Homo sapiens: one gene and its partners. The protein of the gene in region 2 purifies or fractionates together with the protein of the main gene of each other region. This does not show direct contact. Each region holds a gene or a part of one and is shown on either strand. Other genes may lie near its edges.

The links. The genes of interacting proteins can lie anywhere in the genome.
Region 1: the proteins of ARIH1 (region 2) and TEFM purify together in Homo sapiens (affinity purification with mass spectrometry; 3 studies listed by BioGRID and IntAct, with this or other methods). This does not show direct contact.
Region 3: the proteins of ARIH1 (region 2) and KLHL7 purify together in Homo sapiens (affinity purification with mass spectrometry; 3 studies listed by BioGRID and IntAct, with this or other methods). This does not show direct contact.

The regions. Positions count from the first base shown.
Region 1 is NC_000017.11:30,897,993-30,904,235, reverse strand, and holds the end of TEFM (transcription elongation factor, mitochondrial), read left to right. Parts: coding exon 1-170; intron 171-3,673; coding exon 3,674-3,823; intron 3,824-4,629; coding exon 4,630-5,067; 3' UTR 5,068-5,250; downstream 5,251-6,243. UniProt on the Homo sapiens protein: Transcription elongation factor which increases mitochondrial RNA polymerase processivity. Regulates transcription of the mitochondrial genome, including genes important for the oxidative phosphorylation machinery.
Region 2 is NC_000015.10:72,560,910-72,569,399, forward strand, and holds part of ARIH1 (E3 ubiquitin-protein ligase ARIH1), read left to right. Parts: intron 1-573; coding exon 574-640; intron 641-2,484; coding exon 2,485-2,591; intron 2,592-5,653; coding exon 5,654-5,696; intron 5,697-6,196; coding exon 6,197-6,268; intron 6,269-8,490. UniProt on the Homo sapiens protein: E3 ubiquitin-protein ligase, which catalyzes ubiquitination of target proteins together with ubiquitin-conjugating enzyme E2 UBE2L3.
Region 3 is NC_000007.14:23,121,788-23,130,277, forward strand, and holds part of KLHL7 (kelch-like protein 7), read left to right. Parts: intron 1-1,989; coding exon 1,990-2,092; intron 2,093-2,900; coding exon 2,901-2,994; intron 2,995-3,260; coding exon 3,261-3,385; intron 3,386-3,973; coding exon of another isoform or gene 3,974-4,032; exon of another isoform or gene 4,033-4,263; intron 4,264-8,490. UniProt on the Homo sapiens protein: Substrate-specific adapter of a BCR (BTB-CUL3-RBX1) E3 ubiquitin ligase complex. The BCR(KLHL7) complex acts by mediating ubiquitination and subsequent degradation of substrate proteins. Probably mediates 'Lys-48'-linked ubiquitination.

The sequences.
Region 1 (6,243 bases), on a different chromosome or scaffold from region 2:
TTCAGAATTTAGAGAGTTTAATGAATGTGCCCTTGTTTAAGTATAAAAGTACAGTTCAAGTTTGTAACTCCATACTTTGTCCAAAGACTGGACGGGAAAAAAGAAAGTCACCGGAAAACCGGTTCCTGAGAAAGCTCCTCAAACCAGACATAGAAAGAGAAAGACTTAAGGTATATTCTTCATGTCTGCTATACTGCCTAATATTTGAGAACCTACTCTAGAAAGCACTCTTCTGGGCATTGGGTTGGGAAGTGGCTAAGACAGGGTTCTTCAGGTTTAGTTGGCAAGTATATGATCACTACCAAATAATGAGATGTACAGATAGTAAATTGGCAGTTGAGAGGAGAGAAAACAATGGGCTGTGACTGTTGTGGAAAGTTTACTGGAAGAACTCAATTTAGGTCTTAAAAGAGAGATCCTTTGGATGGGAGAGGAGGGCATTGTAGGTAGAAAGAACAGTTGATGCTGAGAAGCAGGTCTAGGCAAGGCTTATTTAAGAGGAGTGTCGTTGGAGATACCAGGCTGTGTCTAAGGGTGATGTTAGGATTAATGAGAAATTAAGGAGCAAAGATAGGTTATGGCCAGTGAGTGACTTTAGAACATTATACCAGTCTTTCCGGCAGAATTTAAAATTATTTTCTGTACCTTTTCTCCTTTAAAAAGCATTTTATCTTGAATCATGCAAGTCTATAGGTAAGATTAAAAAAAAAAAAAAAAAGCGGCTGGCTCACACCTGTAATCCCAGCACTTTGGGAGGCCAAAGCGGGCGGATCACAAGGTCAAGAGATCCAGACAATCCTGGCCAATGTGGTGAAAGCCCATCTCTACTAAAAATACAAAATTTAGCTGGGCATGGTGGCGTGGGCCTGTAGTCCCAGCTACTCGGGAGGCTGAGGCAGGAGAATCTCTTGAACCTGGGAGGCAGAGGTTGCAGTGAGCTGACATCACGCCAGTGCACTCCAGCCTGGCTACAGAGCAAGACTCTGTCTCAAAAAAAAAAAAAAAACACCATTCTAAAAGCAATTCTTTTTCTATTGTCTTAAAAAAATAAATACTAGAAATATTTGACACAGCCAATTTTTTTTTTTTTTTTTTTTTTGAGACAGAGTCTTGTGCTGTCGCCAGGCTGGAGTACAGTGGCATGATCTCACAACAACCTCCACCTCCCAGGTTCAAGCGATTCTCCTGCCTCAGCCTCCTGAGTAGCTGAAACTACAGGCACATGCCACCACGCCCAGCTAATTTTTGTATTTTTAGTAGAGATGAGGTTTTACCATGTTGGCGCCAGGATGGTCTTGATCTGTTGACCTCGTGATCCACCTGCCTCGGGCTCCCGAAGTGCTGAGATTACAGGTGTGAGACACTGCGCCCGGCCACAGCACTCAAGTATTAAACTTTAGAGGAACTCATGTCCTGTGTAACATTGCTTGATAATCATTATCTCATAAAAATCATAAGCACCATTTTTTTTCTGGACCAGTGGGTCCGTTTTTTGAGGAATATGGGTACTTTTGAAAACCTGATGAAAGCTGTGGACCCTCTTCCCATAGAAAAAGATATAGCACATATACACAGAATACTACACAGTTTCAGAGGACTGGCAGATTCTGTTAAGTCCACTCATGGACTCCAAGTAGAACTGCTGCAATTGATCTGGAACATATTTTAACCAAATTCTTCAGGGAGGATTCTCATCCAGATTCATGGCCAAAACTATTTATACCCAGATTAGAGTGGAGTTGCATCTTATTTAGGGGGCTGGATTTTAAGTCAGTTTTTATGGAGATATAAGTCATGCAGTAAAATCCTTTAAGAAAAAATCGATTGCCGACGAAGTATTGTGTGTAGTCTGGTTCAGTAATGCTTGTGCACAGTAAAGCTTGAGAGTCACTTAGCTAAAGAAAACCAAAAGGAAGTCTGTATTTTGGGCATCTATACTATTTTGTCTTTAAGATATTTATCCAGTCCTTAGCAATGAAAGGGAGATGGGTATACAACTAATTGTTCCTGTTTATTTGCCTCTGTATCTATAGAACATATTAGTTTGTTAATATAACTAAGTGAGCCATGTTGGGGAAAGGTGATAGCATTGTACTTCATCGTCAGCCCAGACTTGATAGGAAGCAAAATCTAAATATTCAATTACTTATTATATATCTCCTCTTAGAAGCCCTATAGGCAACCCAAACTTAATGCATTAAAAACAAACCAAAACAAAACAAAAAAATTTCTTCCCACCTTCCCTAGGTCATGTGACTCCTATCTTCGTCATCATTAATGATGCCATTCAGTCACTGATATAAAACTGGAATTATTCTAGACTCCTCGTTAAACCTATGTATTAATTCTGCTCCCACTATCTGTTTCTTTTCCTTCTGTCATTGTCTTCAATTCTTAACACTTTCTCATGTTGTAACAGGTACCTAACACAGATCCCTACCTTTAGTTCCCTCCAGCCCATCTTTTACACCATCAGTGATTTTTCTGAAATGTAAATCTTATGTTATTCCTTAAAATTCTGTTTTTTTAGTGGCCCCTGTAGCACTCAGGATAAAGCAAGTTACTTACCTTTATAGACATCTGCCTTGTCCTCTGCCCTTTTCCTATTCAGTCTTTATTCTACTGCCAGAGTGTGAGATGTCAAACAGCCTATCTTTCCAGACATCTGGGTGAAATAACTTCCCATTTACTGTCTCATTCTCCTAGTCCTCCAGTAAACCTTCCCTGACCACTTCTCTCTACAATAGTTTTATGGTGGCATTTCTTATAATGTACAGTTACGTTTGTTGTTTCCTAGTATCTAGTGCAGACCTTGGCTACACTTGAGTTTGAATGCCTACTTTGGGCAAGGTGCTGAGAATGAGTATAGGTCCTTTATCTATAAACTGACTGCTGCTGGTTACCTTTTAATAATAATTACTCCTTGGTGGCTCACACCTGTAATCCCAGCACTTTGGGAGGCAGAGGCAGGTGGATCACTTGAGGTCAGGAGCTCAAGACCAGCCTGGCCAACATGGTGAAACCCTGTCTCTACTAAACATACAAAAATTAGCTGGGTGTGGTGGCAGGTACCTGTAATCCCAGCTACTCAGGAAGCTGAGGCAGAAGGATTGCTTGAATCTGGGAGGTGGATGTTGCAGTGAGCTGATTGCGCCACTGCACTCTAGCCTGGGTGACAGAACGAGACTCCATCTCAAACAAAATAATAATTACTCCTGCATTTCTTTAATAATTCTCAGTTCATAAACTATAAATAAGTTTATATTACATAAACTAGTTAGGCATTCTGAATTTGTAGATTATGTTTGCATCTAAAATATTTACACTTCTGGCCAGGCACGGTGGCTCATGCCTGTAATCCTAGCTCTTTGGGAGGTCAAGGCAGGTGGATCATGAGATCAGGAGATCGAGACTATCCTGGCTAACACAGTAAAACCCCATCTCTACTAAAAAAAAAAATAAAAAAATTAGCCGGGCGTGGTGGCGGGCGCCTGTAGTCCCAGCTAGTCGGGAGGCTGAGGCAGGAGAATGGCATGAACCCAGAAGGTGGAGCTTGTAGTGAGTTGAGATCGCGCCACTGCACTCCAGCCTGGGAGACAGAGCGAGACTCCGTCTCAAAAAAAGAAAAAACTAAAATGTTTATACTTCTAATTAAATCAGTCTTTTCTTTTAGGCAGTTAATAGTATCATATCTATCGTTTTTGGTACTCGAAGAATTGCCTGGGCTCACCTTGATCGTAAGTTGACAGTGCTGGACTGGCAGCAAAGTGACCGTTGGAGTTTAATGAGAGGAATATACTCATCATCAGTCTATTTAGAAGAGGTAAGGCAGTTGCACCTCCAGATTCCTACCTGCTAGAGCTCCTTGTGTAGTTTAATCTTCTGGTCCCAAAAGGAATGTAATAAAATAGTAAAGATGGGTTTTCTTCTGGTACTTGTTACTCACTTATTCCTATTATGTTTTCCATCACCTTTGATTTTTAAAAATTCAACCTTTAGTTAGTTCAAGAAATGCCTTATGCATCGAAGGCAGATACTGAGAAAATCAATGGTATTTCATTCTAAATGTTATAGAACATTATCACTCTTTTATTTATAAAGCTTATTTTTCAAAATGCCATCACATTGTCTCATTTGAGTTTTCAAAACCTTGCGAAATGGTCAGGAATTATCACCTTAATGGTCAGGAATTACCACCTTGATTATACATATGAAATCTGTGGTTCAGTCAAGCATCTGATGTGATTAGTCAGTTGCAGAGGTGATTGATTCTTGCTAGTTATTCTAACCGTATGCTCTATCCCAGAAAATGTTTGAAGGTTTAGTAAAACAGTTTTAAGTTGTCTAACCTTAAAGCCAATACATATTTTAGAAATTATGAAGTCCACTGTACAGATCAAGAAACTGGTACTTAGGAGGACTAAACAGCTTAGCTTAGCTGTTGTTGTGACATAACCATGACCAGAACCAGACTGCTCATAAAATGGCTTTTTCAGTTATTTCAAAATTGTCAATATAGTATAAATTAACTAATTATAATATTTTTAAATAGAAGTGGGACAGAGAGGGGACCAAACATAAAATGTAATGAATTATTTCTGTTCCTTTATTTTGTCTTTTTTTAAAAAGATTTCCTCGATCATTTCAAAGATGCCTAAAGCAGATTTCTATGTTCTGGAAAAAACAGGACTTTCCATTCAGAACTCATCTCTGTTTCCAATACTGTTACATTTTCATATCATGGAAGCCATGCTGTATGCCTTATTAAATAAAACTTTTGCCCAGGATGGGCAGCATCAGGTGCTGAGCATGAATCGAAATGCAGTGGGGAAGCATTTTGAACTGATGATTGGTGACTCCCGGACTAGTGGAAAAGAGCTAGTGAAGCAGTTTCTCTTCGATTCTATACTGAAGGCGGATCCTCGGGTGTTCTTCCCATCAGATAAAATAGTTCACTACAGACAGATGTTTTTATCTACTGAACTACAAAGAGTAGAAGAGCTTTATGATTCATTATTACAAGCTATTGCCTTCTATGAATTAGCAGTGTTTGACTCTCAGCCTTAGAATTCTGAGGTTAACGTGCTAAAGTATAATTATTAGCTCTAACGTAACACCAACTGTTGTGAACATCCATGTTATTGGAAAAGAACACATTTTCAGTGTATTTTAGATGTTTAAATTCTGACTTTTGGCTATTAAATGGTTTACACAATAAGCCAAGACCAAATCAATAAACATTTTATGAGATTCTGTGCCTCTCAGGTTAATGTGTTAAACAGTAACATGGGGCTTGGTGCAGTGGCTTATGCCGATAATCCCAGCACTGTGGGAGGCTGAGGCAGGAGGACTGCTTGTGCCCAGGAGCTCAAGAGCAGCCTGGGCAACATAGCAAGACCACATAATTTTTAAACATTTTTCATTAAAAAAAAGAAACAGTAAGATGCCAAATTGACAAAACAAGAAACAAAGTTATCTCCCTTTAAAAGCAAATACTATCTATACTAAACATTTGCATTATTATCATATTGTTAAAATAGGGAATAATGGTTTTCCTAGGTGGTACTTATTATAAGAATAAAGCTGGCCACGCATGGTGGCTCACGCCTGTAATCCCAGCACTTTGGGAGGCTGAGGCGGGTGGATCACCTGAAGTCAGGAGTTTTGAGACTGGCCTGACCAAAGTGGAGAAACCCTGTCTCTACTAAAAAAAAAATACAGAATTAGCCGGGTGTGGTGGCGCATGCCTGTAGCCCCAGCTACTCAGGAGGCTGAGACAGGAGAATCGCTTGAACTGGGTGGCAGTGAGCCGAGATCGTGCCATTGCACTCCAGCCAGGGCAACAAGAGCAAAACTCCGTCTCAAAAAGAAAGAATAAAGCTAAAGATAACTGATAATACAGCTTATAGAATCGTCCTCTCTTAGAGGACGATTGTGTGTGTAGAATGTGGTTTGCTACACTGCCTCCAAAAGCTGATTTTCTTTTTTTGAGACAGGGTCTCACTCTGTCACACAGGCTAGAGTGCAATGGCACAATCACAGTTCACTGCAGCACCTCCTGGCCTCAAGCAATCCTCCTGCCTCTATCTCTTGAATAGCTAGGACTACAGGCACATGCCACCATACCCGGCTAATTTATTTTTTGTAGAGACAGGGTCTTACCTTGTTGCCCAGGCTGGGCTCAAATTCCTGGCCTCAAGCAATCCTCCTGCCTCAGCCTCCCAAAGTGCTGGGATTACTGGT
Region 2 (8,490 bases):
TGGAAATTCTTGTGAGTTATAGTGTTCAGAAGAGGCCAGGATGCAGTCAGTGAGCATTTCTGGTTAATTTCTAAGAGCTCTCAGAAGAAGAAGGCTCTTAAAATTGTATCAGCTTTAGGTATCACAAAACCTGGATCCATTTCTTAACATTTCTGGCAACAATATCTGTCTCATTTCGCATACTGATTTGGGTGGGGTGTCTGAAGGAAGGTGGCTGAGAATTGCTGTCTTAAGGCATGATATGATATCAGAGTCAAAAGACCCTGAAATGCGCTTATACTTGGCACTAGTTGGTAAGTCATTAGGCTGTAATAAAAACTGGGTAAAAGTAGACTATTTAAAAAATAAGAACCATGGAAAAAAAGTCTATGAAAATAAAACTATACAAACTTTGAAATTATTGTTCTGATCAGTACAGTTATATTTGTTGATAGCCTATGTGCATTTCAGTATTTACAGCTTAGGGCATAAACATGTAGCCGTAGCATAAACAGCTTTTGAAACTATGTTTTATAAATGTGGAAAATACTCTTGACTGGAAACTTTCTAATCTATTTTTATTCTTGGTTTCAGGCGCCTGATCACAGATTCAAAAGTTAAATTAAAGTATCAGCATTTAATAACAAATAGCTTTGTAGAGGTAAGTGATTTGTTTTCCTTCTTGTAAGAAGGAATTCTGTTTATTAATAGAAATACTATTTTAAAAATTATAATTTATTGACAGTAAAAAACATCTTTAACATATTTATGAAGCATGCCAAAATACCTTTATTCTCAAAAGAGTATGACAGGCCAGGTGTGGTGGCTCATGCCTGTAATCCCAGCACTAAGGGAGGCCGAGGCGGGTGGATCACCTGAGATCAGGAGTTCAAGACCAACATGGCGAAACCCTGTCTCTTCTAAAAATACAAAAATTAGCTGGGCACAGTGGCACAAGCCTGTAATCCGAGCTACTCGGGAGGCTGAGGCAGGAGAATCGCTTGAACCCTGGAGGCAGAGGTTGCAGTGAGCCGAGATGGCGCCACTGCACTCCAGCCTGGGTGACAGAGCGAGACTCCCTCTTAATAAAAAATAAAATAAAATAAAATAAAAGAGTATGAGAAACCAGTAAGTACATCTCTCCATAGATCTTGACCTTGGATAATAAAATTATTTTTACTGTATTCTTCCTTTACTTTTCTTTATCCCTAGCTGAGAATTGTAGTAGATTACTAATCGTGTCATGTTTAATCATGTTTGAGATTCTAACCCTGCTATTTCTCTGCTCGTTTTAGGTTTCATTACCAGTAAATCTTGTTAATAAAGAATGCTATCCTTTATTGGACCATGCCTTTGCCCATTTGTTCTATGACTCCTTTTGTGCTACAGTGGCAGAGTTGAGTAGTTGCTACAGAGACTGTTCTGGCCTGCAAAACCAAAATTCTTTACCCTCTTGGCTTGTTACAGAGGAGTTTTTCAGCCCCTGTATGACAACATCAGTAACTTGGTCTTTTAATTCTAGAAAGTAATTATTTCTGTTAGAGATTAAACCTGGAAACAGCCTATTTTAGAAATAGTGTATTATTTGAAATGGTCAATGGACTTCTGAATTCTGGTGCAGAGTGTTTTTTTTTCATAATACTATAAAAGTTATATTTCCTTTTGAGGAACTAAAATGCAATCTTTGCCTGTGGTTTAGGAACTGGGTTTTTTGTTTGTTTTTTTTTTTCCTTCTTACAAGAGCTTTTTATGGGAGAAGTTGTATGTATATCCTTTAGCCTATCTTGAACTATTCTGTAGCTTCTAAACACCTTCCTTGATAAAGAGTATATCTGATTTTCTTGTGTCTTTTGAAAATTGTTCTGAAATAGAACTGTAAATAAATTAGTGGTTTTTAATGGTCACATACATGATATTTAATTAAAGTTATTCAGTGGGATTTTGAAGATAGAACAAGAGGTGATTCATGTATTTTATAAAACCAGGTCTTCAGGGATCAGTCATCTTTAAAAAAAAAAAAAAAAGGCACATCTGAAGTGTTGCTATAGAAGACCACAGCAAGTTTTCATAAGCTTGTGTAATTATCCCCCATTTGCCCCTTGTACCAGAGAAGCAATATAAATAGCTTGATGTACTAGGAAATCTTGCATCATGACCTAATTTAATTTGCTGTCTTTTTTTGAGGCAGGGCCTCATTCTAACACCCAGGCTGGAGTGCAGCAGATGATCACAGCTCTCTGCAGCCTCTACTTCCTGGGCTCAAGTGATCCTCTTGCCTCAGCCTCCTGTGTAGTCGGGACTACAGGCACATACCACCATGCCTGGCTAAATTCTTTTTTCTTTTTTTTAAGGTAGAGACAAGGTCTTGCTATGTTGCCCGGGCTGGTCTGGAGTGCTTGACCTCAAACAGTCCTCCCGCCTTGGCCTCCCTAAGTTCTGGGATTATAGGTGTGAGCCACTGTGCCCAGCCAGCTGTCATTTTTTATTTTCTAACTTGTATTTCAGTGCAATCGACTGTTAAAGTGGTGTCCTGCCCCAGATTGCCACCATGTTGTTAAAGTCCAATATCCTGATGCTAAACCTGTTCGCTGCAAATGTGGGCGCCAATTTTGGTAAGCAAGTGATTTCCTAAATTGAAATAGTGCACAAAGCGTTTCCATTTCTCCTGTTTATTCTTGGTAGTAAAATAGCAGAAAAAAAGTGTTTACCTTAGGCAGGGAGATGTTTGATACTGGTTTAAAATAGTATATATCTCTTTCAGAATTGAATGAAAAGGTCACATCTTAAAAAAATTTTTCCTCTTTCCTTGATGTTCTAACTTTTTTGAATTTTTTTTTATGGAGAAAATATACAACTCTAATCATATCTTCCTGTATGCTCCACTGTAACTTAATGGGAGCAAACTTGTAGATCTGGGACTATACGTTTTTCTTTACTCTGCCAAATTTTAACCTTACTTATGCAAAGGAAATGTGCAGGTAAATTCTGCTGATGGTCTCCTTTTTAACTAAGAGTTTTCCTGTGGCTCCTCTCGCCCAGCTTTCTTGGTAACTTGGGCTTTTGGAGTTCTATAGTATACTCTTCAGCCTCTGAATTCTAGATTTGAACTGCCAGGAAGTTTCCAGTGCCACATATTAGGGGATGTCTTAATCAGTTCAGGCTCCTTTATAGGTGTTCTAGTTTTTTCCAAAGTGGATAGGCTGAAAATTTTTCAAATTTTTGACTTCTTATTTCCTTTTGATGAACAGTTTATCTCTAGGTCATTCATCTCTTCTTGCATTTTCTATAAACATTCAAGAGAAGCTAAGCTGCGTCTTCAACACTTTGCTTAGTAATTTCCTCAACCAGATATTCAGTTTCATTTCTCTACCTTCCACAAAACAATTCAGCCAACTTCTTTGCCACTTTATAGCAAGGATGGCCTTTCCTCTAGTTTCTAACAGCATGTTCCTCATTTTCATCTGAGACCTCATCATAATGGCCTTTACTGTCCATATTTCTAACAACATTCTGTTCATGGCCATTTATTTAGGTTTTCTCTATGATTGAGGCATTCCCTGCACTTCTGTCTTTCTGAATCCTCACCAGAATTACCCTTAACAATTCAGTTCATTCACAGTGATCTAGGCTTTTTCTAGCTTGCACTTCCAAGCTCTTCCAGCCTCTACTTACTACCTAGTTTCAAATCGGCTTTCACATTTTTGGTTTTGTTAGAACAGCACCCTCACTTCTTGGTACCATTTTCTGTCTTAATGTTCAGGCTTTTATAACAAAAGACCATAAACTGGGCGGCTTCTAAACAACATAAATTTATTTCTTACAGTTCTTAAGGGTGAGAAGTCCAAGATCAAGGTGCCAAAAGATTTGTTGTCTGGCGAGGGCCTGCTTTTCTGGTTCATAGATGGTGCCTACTTGCTGGGTCCTCATATGGTGGAAAGGACAAGGCAGCTCTCTGGGCCCCTTTTTTTTTTAAAAAGGATGCCAATTCCATTCACCTCCTAAAGGCTCCACATCCTAATACTGTCACATTGGTTATTAAGTTTTAACATACACATTTTAGGGGGACACAAACATTTATATCCTGCTAGAAGTTAAGATGATTTTCTGTTCCTTTGAGGGTCTTGAGGAGTAAGAAGCCAATCAAGTCAAGGGGCTCTAGACCCAGCAAATAGATTTTTTGTTTTGTTTTGTTTTGAGAGAGGGTCTCACTCCATCACCCAGGCTGGAGTGCAGTGGCACGATCTCGCACTGTAACCTTTGCTTCTCAGGTTCAAGTGATTCTTGTGCCTCTTGAGTAGCTGGGATTACAGGCGTGTGCCACCACGCCTGGCTAATTTTTATTTATTTATTTATTTGTTTATTTATTTATGTATTTATTTTTAATAGAGACAGCATTTCACCTTGTTGGCCAGGCTGGTCTTGAACTCCTGGCCTCAAGTAATCCACCTGCCTCGGCCCTCCCTAAGTGCTGGGATTACAGGTGAGAAGCACCATGGCCAGCCAGATTTTCTTTTTTGCTGCGGGGTGGTTTGGAGGGGGAAATATTTTATTGGTATTCCATACCTTTCTTTTTTTCCTCCAAACATCTATAGAATTACACTTAACACATCATTAATAATAAATATTTCCAAAAAGAGCAGGTAAGCTCACAGAGATTAAGTATGTGTAAAATACATACTGTTTCGATAAAGATTAATTATGTATTGTTATTTTAGAGAAAAGGTGGATAATACCTACTTTCCAATGTATTTTTAGCGTGACACATTTCAAACATAAAAGTATAGAGAATACAGCAGTGAATACCTATATAGCTACAATCCAGTTAAATCAAAATTAGTATTTTGTTTTTCTTCATTAAGAGATAAAACATGACACATATATTTGAAGCTCCTTGGTTCCCTGCTCCTTCCCATTCCCCATCTTTCTTTTCAGAAATAACCATTTATCTTAACCTGATTTAAATCAATAGTAGTTTGTTTCTGTCTTTAGCAAAGGACTTTTTGCCATTCGTAAATTACTTAATTAGCTAATTAATCTGTCATTTTATTATTTTTTTCTTAAGCATTTGTGTTTGTTAATTATACTTCTTTTACAAGTGTATATGTCATGAACTTAGAAAACAAAAGTGAATTACTGATTAACACATGTTTAGTGAGTATTTAGTCTTTTTGTTTTATACCTTGCCCAGTACCATTTCCCTCTACAGGGCGGAGGTTCATTTGTTTAAATAATGCAAAGATGTGACCTATTTGCTTCCCATATATTGTTTACTGTGTATTAGTACTAAATTATATAAGTAACCTACAAAGTCAGCCTTTTATTCTTCATTTAGGGTGTTAAGTAAAAGATTAAAAATGCACTGATGAAGCATGGGTTGAAACTTCTCAATATAGTCTGAGGCACCTTAGCAACAATTATTATGAAATTGTCATCAAAGCGTGTCTTCATGCTTATAGTCATTCTTCACACATATTGAGTACCCACTATGTGCTAGTTCTACTACTAAATTCTAGGTAATTAACTGTAAAGCAGACATGGGTTCTCTCCTTGTATTTGCCAGTCACTAGAAACTAGTGACAATACTGTGGAACTATAAGGCATGAAATGATTGGCTTATTTACTTGCTTACAGTAGGTAGGCCTTAATTCTATTAACTCTTTGTGTCACTTAACAGCTTTAACTGTGGAGAAAATTGGCATGATCCTGTTAAATGTAAGGTGAGTTTGTCTGACATTTCAATTTTTAAATAATGGCACACTTCTAAGACTTAGTGACTAAAAATCATAGCTGATGATTTTGTTATCTATCTATTGATAGATTTTTTTTTATCCTTTTAATTTCAGATGATCATTACATGTATTCAGAGGTAATTCCTTAGGATAAGCCAAGTCAGCTCCTGATTGTTATTAGGATAACCATGGCTAAGGCACCTCTTTGTCAGGCTTTGTAATTAGGGGAATACACACCTTGCAGTTGGGCTTCTCTTCAAGCTCTAGGTTCCCCACTCAGCTTCTGCCAAAGAAAATCCTGCTTTGGTTGATTTTATATATACTGGACATTGTAGCTATGGGATTTCCCTGGCTTAAGAGGATGTGAGCCTAGTGATAATCTTATTCATTGGCTTTTACATTTAAGCTTGACTATAGTTAAGTGCTAAAGTAATTTGCTATTTTTAAAAGTCTTTTGTTGTATCCTAACCGTTGTTATTTTCAAACAGTGGTTAAAGAAATGGATTAAAAAGTGTGATGATGACAGTGAAACCTCCAATTGGATTGCAGCCAACACAAAGGTTGGTGTTTTCCTTCAGTAACTCTTGGTAATAAAAATGATAAGGATTGGTACTTTGGCATTAGCAAAAGCAATGAGGTGACCTACTTACAGGCTTTGTTTCATCTTTTTCTCCATTGAGTCTTTTTTTTTTTTTCCCAGAATGTTTGCCTGTTATTTCCTTTTTCTCTTTGAGTTTATTTTAGAGTATTGAGTACTGTAGTACAGCATCCACAGTTCTCTGCCTTAGGTTTCTTCTACTGGAAAAAAAATTAGTGTTCTGTAGAGGAAAAAGCTGATAATTTTTCAAGTGTGGGATTTGTGCTTGGCTGCCATTTAGTATACAAATGCATTGGAGTTTACTCCGCCTAGCTTGGTTCTGTTAGGCTAATTTACATTTTTGTTTCTAATTTTTTGTTTTGAAGTACATTGCTCTTGATACTAGTTTCAAAATTCAATTTCAAAATTCACTTTCTTAACCCCAGACAAATGTCTTAGAAGTGTTTAAATCTTGAGTACCCTTCTCCTCGATCACTAATCTAATGAGCAAGCATTTGAATGCCAACCGTGTACCCAGCTAGTCTTTTAATACAAAGTCGTATTATCCATCCTTTATGTAATTCAGTCCTATCCTATCCCCATAGTGAGTGACTTGGGTAATGAATGGTAGGTTGGTTCATGGGCTATTCATTTTTAGTATTATTTTGTACATGTAAAGATGATGCTTTAAAGAATGCTGAGTTGTTTGACCCATAGTATATAAAGCTATCTTTGAACTGTTGCCTCAGTCATCACAGGACAATGAGATTAAGAAGTGTGTAAACAATGAAGGCCGACGCAGGTTGTCTGTGTGTGTTTAAATATACATCTTACATACTTATATATAAAACATGAATTTATATTTCTGTCTCCCAGAAAGTAGTGAAACAGTGAATCTTGCCACATAAAACAAATGCCCAAGTCTTTAAGGAATATATGGTAGAAATTAATATTTTTTGTTCCCTCCAAAACCATCACGATAAGCATAACTCACGTCAATCAAAGAAAACCTTACTATAAATATACTGTAATGTCAGAAAGTGGTTACTTGTTTTGTTATTAAAAAAAAATTCTTAGCCAAGCATTCTTTTTTTGAAAATTGAAGATTTTCCCACAAGAAATGTTCCTTAAGTCCCAGAATTCTTTAATATGCTCTGAAAAACTAATATTTAGAATAAGGCAATTATATTTTCACTAAATTGTTTAATTAAATGGTAGCCTTTTTTCTACATCTAGAGAAATTCCTACTTGTAAGCCCCAAAGATGTTTAAAATAGGGAGTACAGGCTTGAATATGTTTGGCTTAGTTTAGATTGTAGATTACCAAGGAAGAATGGCAATTTGTAAAACAAATTTAGCTGCTCAGTATTTTTGAGAGAAAACTGAAGAGTTTTTCTCTTGAGGTTTTAGAAGCTTTTAAGATTATTAGCTCCCTAAACAGATATGCATATTGTCAGTGATATCCTAACATTTTGGAGGTTTAATACTATTAGGTTAATTATAACCAAGAAATGTAGAATGTAGAATGACGCATATTTTATGCCTGAAATTTGCTTGTTTGGAAAAAATGTAAAATTTCTTATGTGGGTGATTTCAAAAATTTGATTTGAAATATATAATTAAAAAGTTGCTATATTGGCCTATTTTAAATTGCTATCATTGATGGGCAGCATAGTCAATTTCACAAAGAAGGCCAAATTGTGCAAATACTAATATAGTGGGTGATCCCTCCTTGGGAGAGTTACAAACCTCAATCACAAATGCAAAAACAAAAAATCCATAGGCCTACAGAGCAGTAATTTTGGCTTACTAGCAACCAAGAATATGATATGAGGCCAGGTGCAGTGGCTCACACCTGTAATCCTAACACTTTGGGAGGCCGAGGTAGGCAGATTGCTTGAGCTTGAGAGATTGAGACCAACCTGGGCAACATGGTGAAACCCCACCTCAACAAAAAATTCAAAAATTAGCCGAGCATGGTGGCATGCACCTGTAGTCCCACTACTTGGGAGACTGAGGCAGGAGGATGACTTGAACCCTTGAGGTCAAAGCTGCAGTGAGCCATGATTGCACTGCTGCACTCCAGCCTGGTCGACGGTGAGACCCTGTCTCAAAAAGAAAAAGAAAATGATTTGGACTTGGAAAAAAACAATCTAACACGATCTCTGTAGCATACTTGTTAAGGAGTACAATGAAAAGAATTTAA
Region 3 (8,490 bases), on a different chromosome or scaffold from region 2:
TTCTCCTGCCTCAGTCTCCCAAGTAGCTGGGACTACAGGTGCCCACCACCACACCTGGCTAATTTTTTGTATTTTTAGTAGAGGCGGGATTTCACTGTGTTAGCCAGGATGGTCTCAATCTGCTGACCTTGTGATCCGCCCGCCTCAGCCTCCCAAGGTGCTGGGATTACAGGCATGAGTCGCTGCACCCGGCAGTCCCATCTCTTATTGGAAATTATCAGTCTATTGTAGTATAGGCAAATAAATGTACCATTTGGATACAAAAGACTCTTCCTACTTATTTTCCCCACCCCTCCAACCATTAATATCCAGCTGGACATTAATCTTAGACTAAAACTCAGTTGCTGTACAAAGATCTACATTTCTTCAACCTCCTTCAGTGCCTATAAAGTCATTCTACTTATAAACTCTGTTGTTGAGTATGCCTTGGAGATGTTTTTGCTGTATTTTGGTTTAACCCTATGTTTCATAGAAGTTCCATCACTGGCCATAGATTTCTCCCCATGATCTGATATAATCTGATTTGCTTGATGCTTTATCATCTTTATTCTTCACTCCCCACCCCTTTCTCCCTCTCCTTCTCTCCCTCCTTTGACCTCCAAGGCAACTTGATCACTTGTTTTTTGGTGGTAACCAAATAGTTAACTTGGTTATGCTACTTGGTATTTTTTGGTATAGTATGTAGCAAAAACACCTGAGAGATCTGCCTCTGTACCCCCTCCCCAAATGAAATAAAATTTAAAAATTCAAGACACTATGAGAATAAAAATAGCTTTAGTTATAAACCTGCATATAAGTTTTAAGCAATAGTCAATACTAGGCCTTATTTGAAAATCTTCAAATAAGCTGTAAAAGTGAAATTTTGTTCATTTCCTAGCCTGCTATTTGAGGCTTATTTTCTCTCTCATTCTAAACATTATTATTTTATTTTATCTTCACAAAATAATACAATAACAGATTTATCTATCAGAAACTATATTAACAGTTTTAGTAAAATACTTAAAATTTGCAAAATGCAAATCCTCTGAGCCATGAAGCCAATCTTAGATTTGTAAGCGATATTTTTTTTACTCTGAATATATTATTTGCCTCATATTCCCAGTGCCTAGGACAGTCTTTAATACATTGTATACACCAAGTTTTCTGTAAGCCTAATCTCTATATTTTGTCTTTAACTTCGTTAAGAAATTAAGATTTTATTTGGCAAAAAGGACATTTATTTTTCTTGATATTCATTTATAAGTGTTCTAGTAAGCCTTAAATTTTTTCTTTATTATTCCGTTTTCCCCACATTTTAATTAAGTATTACTCAGAGCTGCCTTCTTTAAGCAGCTTATGGTGATACTATTTTGACGTTGGTCAGAAATCAGAATTTAAAACTGGCTGCTATCCAGCTTCTATCAGAAGTGCATTTGAGAGAAGTGTTATTTAATAAAAGATTGCTGAAAGGACATTTAGTTCATCTCCTCTCTGTATTCTGAGCTGTTTCTGTTTCAAGTTAGATCTGTGAATGCTACTTTCTTAGGAAATGCAGTGTATGTTCTCAATTTCATCAAGGATAAATAATGGAAAATAAATCATATAAAAACTAATTGCTGTGTTTGAAAAACTGTCAGGGTGTCAGGGGCACTGCCATGATGTCATTGAATTTCCCCCAGAAAAGCTTACCATGAGAAATGTCCTAGAATCTGTGTCAGAAAAAAAAAAAAAAAAAGACTTCTCTGAAGGGTTAGTAGACTTGTTTCTGATTATGAGGAACTTTTTCTTTCCTCTTGACTGTTGGAAAACTCAGTGCAAAATTTTTATACTACATGGCAGCGACTCTGTAAGTCCTTTCTAAATATGTCTTCAAAAGAAATTCTGCGCTGGAAAAAGATTGGCTTTAAATAGAAAATAGAGATAAAGCATTTGGCAAGCACCTTTTTAACATGTATTGCCAAGCTAGGCTAGTGAGCCTCTTTTTATTTTATGTATTTTTCCTTTGATTAGAAAACGTTGTGTGACGTGATCCTCATGGTCCAGGAAAGAAAGATACCTGCTCATCGTGTTGTTCTTGCTGCAGCCAGTCATTTTTTTAACTTAATGTTCACAAGTAAGTATCTTAAGGTAAAACATGCCATTATTTCTTCTATGAGAATGAAGTAAAATCTAAAAGAGAATATGTCATTTTTCTAATTTTTAAAGCAGTTAAGAACTTAAGGCCACAGAACAGTGAAGAGATTGAAAAAGTAGTCAGCTGATAACCAAAGGAAAAAATGTCCTTTCATTAGACCTAAAGGCCTGATGCCTTTATTGATGGAGGTACAGCTTCTACTTAAAAGCCCAGGGTTGAGGTGGAGGTTGCAGTGAGCCGAGATTGCACCACTGCACTCCATCCTGGGCGTCAGAGCGAGACTCTGTCTCAAAAAAAAAAAAAAAAAAAAAAAAAAAAAAAAGCCCAGGGTTTTCTTTTTAACCTTAGGTGGAAAGACAAAGAAGCAGATAAATTTCATAATATTTTAGCCGGCAAGTTAAACTTTAAAAAAAAAATAGCTGTAGCATATTGTGCCAGAAAGAACCCTGGATTTGGTGTTCAGAACTGGGTCCAAGTCCTACTTCCTCTACTTAGTACTATTTTATGAGCTTGGGAAAAAAACAAAATCTAGTTTTATGTTTCTGTTAATATGGTCTTAAAAAGAAGTACACTAATTCACTCTTTTCTTAGCTTAATTTAAGGCACATCTTGGGTGGAGAATTAATTTGCATTGACTATAGAAATGTTGGGCTTGCTGGGGCATTTTCTTCCAGAGAGAACTGTCCCGTTATTTTTCTGCATATTTAACATGGCCTGGAATGCCGTGGTTCCTCAGTCAAACTTGTGGTAGTACAGATGCCATTTATGTTTCTTCTCTTCATTGTAGCTAACATGCTTGAATCAAAGTCCTTTGAAGTAGAACTCAAAGATGCTGAACCTGATATTATTGAACAACTGGTGGAATTTGCTTATACTGCTAGGTGAGTTAAGTATTATTTTTATTTTAGAGAAGTAATGTTGGTATCTACCATGGCAAAGCATTGTCGTAACAAATAGTTGCACTACAAATTCTTCAAAATGAAAAACCGCAAGGATGGAAGAGTTTCAGTATCCTATGCCATACTAATTCAAGGACTGAAAGTTTAATTTTGTGTTTAATTTCAGGGGCTATTAGGATACATTCCACAGTAACATTTAAATAATAAAAAATCATGGGTAACTAATATTCCCTCTAACTTATTTGCAGAATTTCCGTGAATAGCAACAATGTTCAGTCTTTGCTGGATGCAGCAAACCAATATCAGATTGAACCTGTGAAGAAAATGTGTGTTGATTTTTTGAAAGAACAAGTTGATGCTTCAAATTGTCTTGGTAAGAAATATCAGATTCCTGTTGTGTGTTTATTTTGTTTTATCCTTTATTTCTAATTTAATTTTTTAAAAAGGCTGATTTTAAGTATCCGCATTTAACCTTAAAGACATTGTCCACTAGAACGTTTTCTAGTAATAAAATTTAAGAGGGGCTTAGAGAGATGCATATTAACCTGGGCAGCAGCAAGCTTATTAAATATTATATCAACATTTTCTAAAACACAAAATGGCATTTTTAATGGTTTTTCACGGATCTAGGACAATGAATAAGGATTGCATGTGGTGATAGTAACATGATTATGAATGTTTCCTTTTATTTAAGCACTTATGATATGCTAAGGTCTATCACAGATGAGGCAACTTATAGTTAGGTAACTTGCCAGAGGTCACATAGCTAGTGTATGAACGAGCTGGGATTGGAACTCAAGTAATCTAATTCTTAGCTACTACACCTTGCTGCCTCCCCACATTGTCAAAATGCTGTTTTATACTAGAAAACATAACCTTAGTCTATAAATTAAGATACTAACTGAGGGACTGCTATAGCCATTTTGAAGCTATTAATAAAGTATTTTCTATTTTGTGATAGGAGAAGCAGAAAAAGTTGATCAGAGCCTTCCAGAGTGTGGTATGCTTTTCACTGTGTGATGATCCTTAGTGGCACATGAATGAACGTCCAGATGTTTGTGCAGTAGCCCACCCTTATCTGCAGGATACGTTCCAAGACCCCCAGTGAATGCCTGAAACTGCAGATAGTACTGAATCCTATATATACTGTGTTTTTTATGATACATACATGCCTATGATGAAGTTTAATTTCTAAATTAGACAGTAAAAGATTAACAACAATAATAATAAAATAGAACAACTTTAACAATATGCTAGCATCACTACTCTTATATTTTGGGGCCATTATTAAGTAAAATAAGGGTTACTTGAACAGAGCACTGCAATACTAGGGTAGTCCACTTCATAACCAGGATGGTTTCTTAAGTGACAGGCAGGTAGGTTATACAGCATGGATATGCTGGTCAAAGGGATGATTTCTGTCCCAGGCAGGATGGAGCAGGATGACGTGAGATTTCATCACACAACTCAGAACAGCACACAATTTCAAACATATGAATTGTTTGTTTCTGGAATTTTCCATTTAATGTTTTTGAACCACAGAAAGCAAAACCATGGATAAGGGGGACTACTCTAATTCCATTTTCCTACGCTTGTTGTGATTCAGAGGCTTTAAAGAAAGGGAAGAGCGCTGGTATAGGAGTGCTAGGAAAGCAGGGAGGAAAGAAAAGTAGAATGAAGGAAAGTATAAAGAGGGGTCAAAGAATCCAGTCAGTGCTAAGATATTTGACCCAGGAGAAAAGAAGAGGGGTGCTAAATGACAAGAACGCAAAGACTGATGCAAAGGGCTCCTGAAGATGCTTCAGAATTTTGGCAAGTCTCCTCTGTCCCTACTTTTTGTAGGCTTTCCTCCTTCCGGACACTTTAGTACTCCTTCCTGCATACCCCCTCACTGTGAGCACAGAGAGAGAGATCTTGGAAGGCAGGTGGAAAGCAGCAGAATAAATTTCAGGAGGAAGTAAAAGTCAGGTGAAGGGAATAAAAATGAGACTTAGCCTAATATCCAGAAAAGGGATTGGACTAGATGGAGCAGGAAGAGAAATAGCTATGCAGGTGAATATACTGAAGGAATTTTTAAAAGGTAGCCATGGGTCTACATATTGAAAAGATCCCTATATTAGAAAATAAAAGGCCAATCTCTAATCCTACCTGTACAGCAGAGACACTCTGGCATGAGTCCTTCCATCTCTTTGGGCCGTAATTGGGGCTTCACTCATCAATAAGATTTATATTCCTAAGACTTAAGGTTACTTCCATTATATAAATAATTATCTTCAGACAATACTATAAACGGGGAATTACCTTAATTAAGTTTTTGGAAATGATGGCTTATGTATGTTTCTATAACTCCCTAGCACTCTAAATTTCCTCCTGGGGTGATTCAACTACAAAGAAGAATGGCTGAAATATAGGTAGGTAGTAGATGTGGTGGTGCAAAGCATAGTGTGGAACCTGGAGTGAGTCTGTGCTAAGCACATCTTAGGCTTTGGGCTTCTGAGGAGACCATTTAGTAGTTTTGCCTCTGGATACCTTCTATCCTTACTGTTCACAAAGCTGGGAGGAAGGACAGCCCCGCCACCTAGAAAGTAGCCTGATTCCTGGCTAAGCTTCTGGCAAAGACAGTGGCCCAGCCAGGTGAGCCAAGTGCCATAGCCCAATAACTAGGGAAACTGCTTCTGCTTGCTTTCTGTTTAGCCTTGAGCATGGCTCTCAATGTCAGCTGATTGGATAATTCCTAGCTTAGTTTTCACCACCTGTCAATTCTCTGCTGCCCAGAAAGAGTCCATCAATCGAGCTTCCACAAATGCTAAAGGAACCGGTGGCAGCTGATGGAATCGGGCAAAGATCATGTAAAAAATTAAACCCAGTACCAGCCTGGCCAACATGGTGAAACCCCTCTCTACCAAAAAAATACAAAAATTAGCCGAGTGCAGGCGTGGTGGCACACACCTGTAGTCCCAGCTACTCCGGAGGCCGAGGCGGGAAAATCGTTTGAACCGGGAGGCGGAGGTTGCAGTGAGCCGAGATCTTGCCACTGCACTCCAGCTGCATGAGACAGTGAGACCCTGTCTTGGAAAAAACAAAAAAAAACAGTAGTTTGAGGAACAGAAAACCAAGCTAAACAGCCAAAATGAATGGCTCCTGTAAGGCAAATTTAATGTGAGAAATAGAAGGGAACAAATTAACCGGGCATGGTTGTGCGCGCCTGCAGTCCAAGCTACTCCAGAGGCTGAAGCGGGAAAATCGCTTGAACCGGGAGGCGGAGGTTGCAGTGAGTGAGCCGAGATTGCGCCACTGCACTCTAGGCTGGACTACAGAGTGAGACTCTGTCTCAAGAAAAAAAAAAAAAGCAAACTTAAAAATACGATGTGTAAAAATATGGTTTTACAGTTTTTTGACATTCAATTGAATTGAAAAATAGAATCGATACTCTTAAAACTCAAACCGAAGAAGATCAAACAGGAAGTTGCCTCATGATACGAAACAAAAATGCAAAGGAAGCCACTAGTGAGAAGATAAAAGAAAGGGAAGGAAGATACAGGAACTGCAGTGTGAGGTAGGAGTTCCAGAAGGAACAGATGGAGAAAGCAATAATCAAATAAGACTACGACTTCTTTGGGTTTAAAAAAAAAAAAAAAAAAAAAAAAAAAAAGAACTTTAACTTTCGGACTAAGTTATACTGAGTATTAAACCTGATCAATGAACTAAGATATTCCTCCCTCAGATATATTCTAGTGATATTTTTCACCTTCAAAGATCAAAAGAGAGCTTACATTTGGGGTGATAAAAATATTCTGGAACTAGATAGTGGTGACTGTGGTACAACATTGCAAATGTAGTAAATGTCACGGTAAGTTTTATGTGTATTTTACCACATTAAAAAAAAAAGTGACCCTACAGCTAGCAGGTCCCAAAAGAAACTCCCACACCCACTAGCAGTCACTCCCCATTCTTCCTCTGGCAGGCCTGGCAACCATGAATCTGCTTTCTGCCCCTATAAATTTGCCTATTCTGAGTGTTTCATATAAATTGAATCATACCAAAGGTGGCCCTTTGTGTCTGGCCTCTTTGAGCACAGTGTTTTTAGGGTTCATCCATATTGTAGCATTTATCAGTACTTCATTTCTTCTTATGGCTGAATAATATTCCATTGCATGGATATACCAAAATGTGTTTATCCATTTACTGATGGGTGAATGTTTGAATTGTTTCCAAGCCAGCACATTTTATAGAGGAAAAGGAAAGCACTGGTTAACTTGAACAAAAAAAAATAAAAGTGCTTTCTACCATCTGGGACCTTGGCTGTGGATCAGGTGAGTGCACAGGTCAGACGAAAGCCCTACAGTTGGCACAGCCTGGGCCTCTGTCCATGGTTGCAGGGGCATCTCCGCAGCTACTGCATGCAGTGATCATGGGGGCCCCAGACCTGGGCTTAGGCAAGGGCACTGTGTTGTTGTACATCACCAAACACTTCAAGCTGAGGCACCTCTCCAGCAGGGACTGCTCCAGGACAACATGCTACAGGGCACATAAATTGGTATGTTAGCCAAGGCTTTTCTTGACCAAGGGAAACTCATCCCAAATGATGTTACGACTCGGCTGGCCCTTCATGAACTGAAAAATCTCACCTAATATAGCTGGTTTTCCAAGGACACTGCCATAGGCAGAAGCCCTAGATGAGCTTATCAGATAGACACAATGATTAACTTGTATGTGCCCTTGGAGGTCATTTAAACAACACTTCACTGCTTGCTGTTCATCTAGCTAGTGGCCGAGTCGACTACATTGAATTCAACCGTCCCCAAACTGTGGGTATTGCTGATCTGACTGGGAAGCCTCTCATTCGGCCTGAGAATAATAGACCAGAGACACAGTTATCAAGAGACTGAAGACTTATGGAGCCAGTCCCAGAACTTTACCAGAAAAAAACAGGGATGTTGGAAACACTCTCCAGAGCAGAAACCAACAAGATTTAACGTCATGTTTATGCTTTCCTACAAACTAAAGTTCCACAAAATCAGAAAGCCCCAGTTACTCCATGAGGAGAAATGATTATAACTAGTAAGATGAGCAGAACCTCCTTGTCCTTGGATTTAGAGGCTCCTTTTCCTAAGAATGGAGCATGTATAAATAAGAATGTAGGCATGTATAAGAATGTATGCATGTATAAGTTCTTTGAAAATTATATTATTTCTACAGATTTTATTCTGGATACTAATGATGTGCCAGATGAATCAGGTACTGATTCATCTTTTGAAATCATCTAATGTGTTTTATCCAGTTATCTTCTAGCAGTGTGCAATTCAAAAACATCATTGGTGTCTAAACTTTTAAAACATCCGTTAGAGCAAAATTAAAAGAGCAATTAGTAGTCTTTTTTCTTCAGTAAGAATAAGTGGTTGATAAAATTTTCATTTTTTTCTGGAAAAGTTTTTAAAAGTTACATGTCATTTGGGGAAAATATCTCATAAGTTTTTG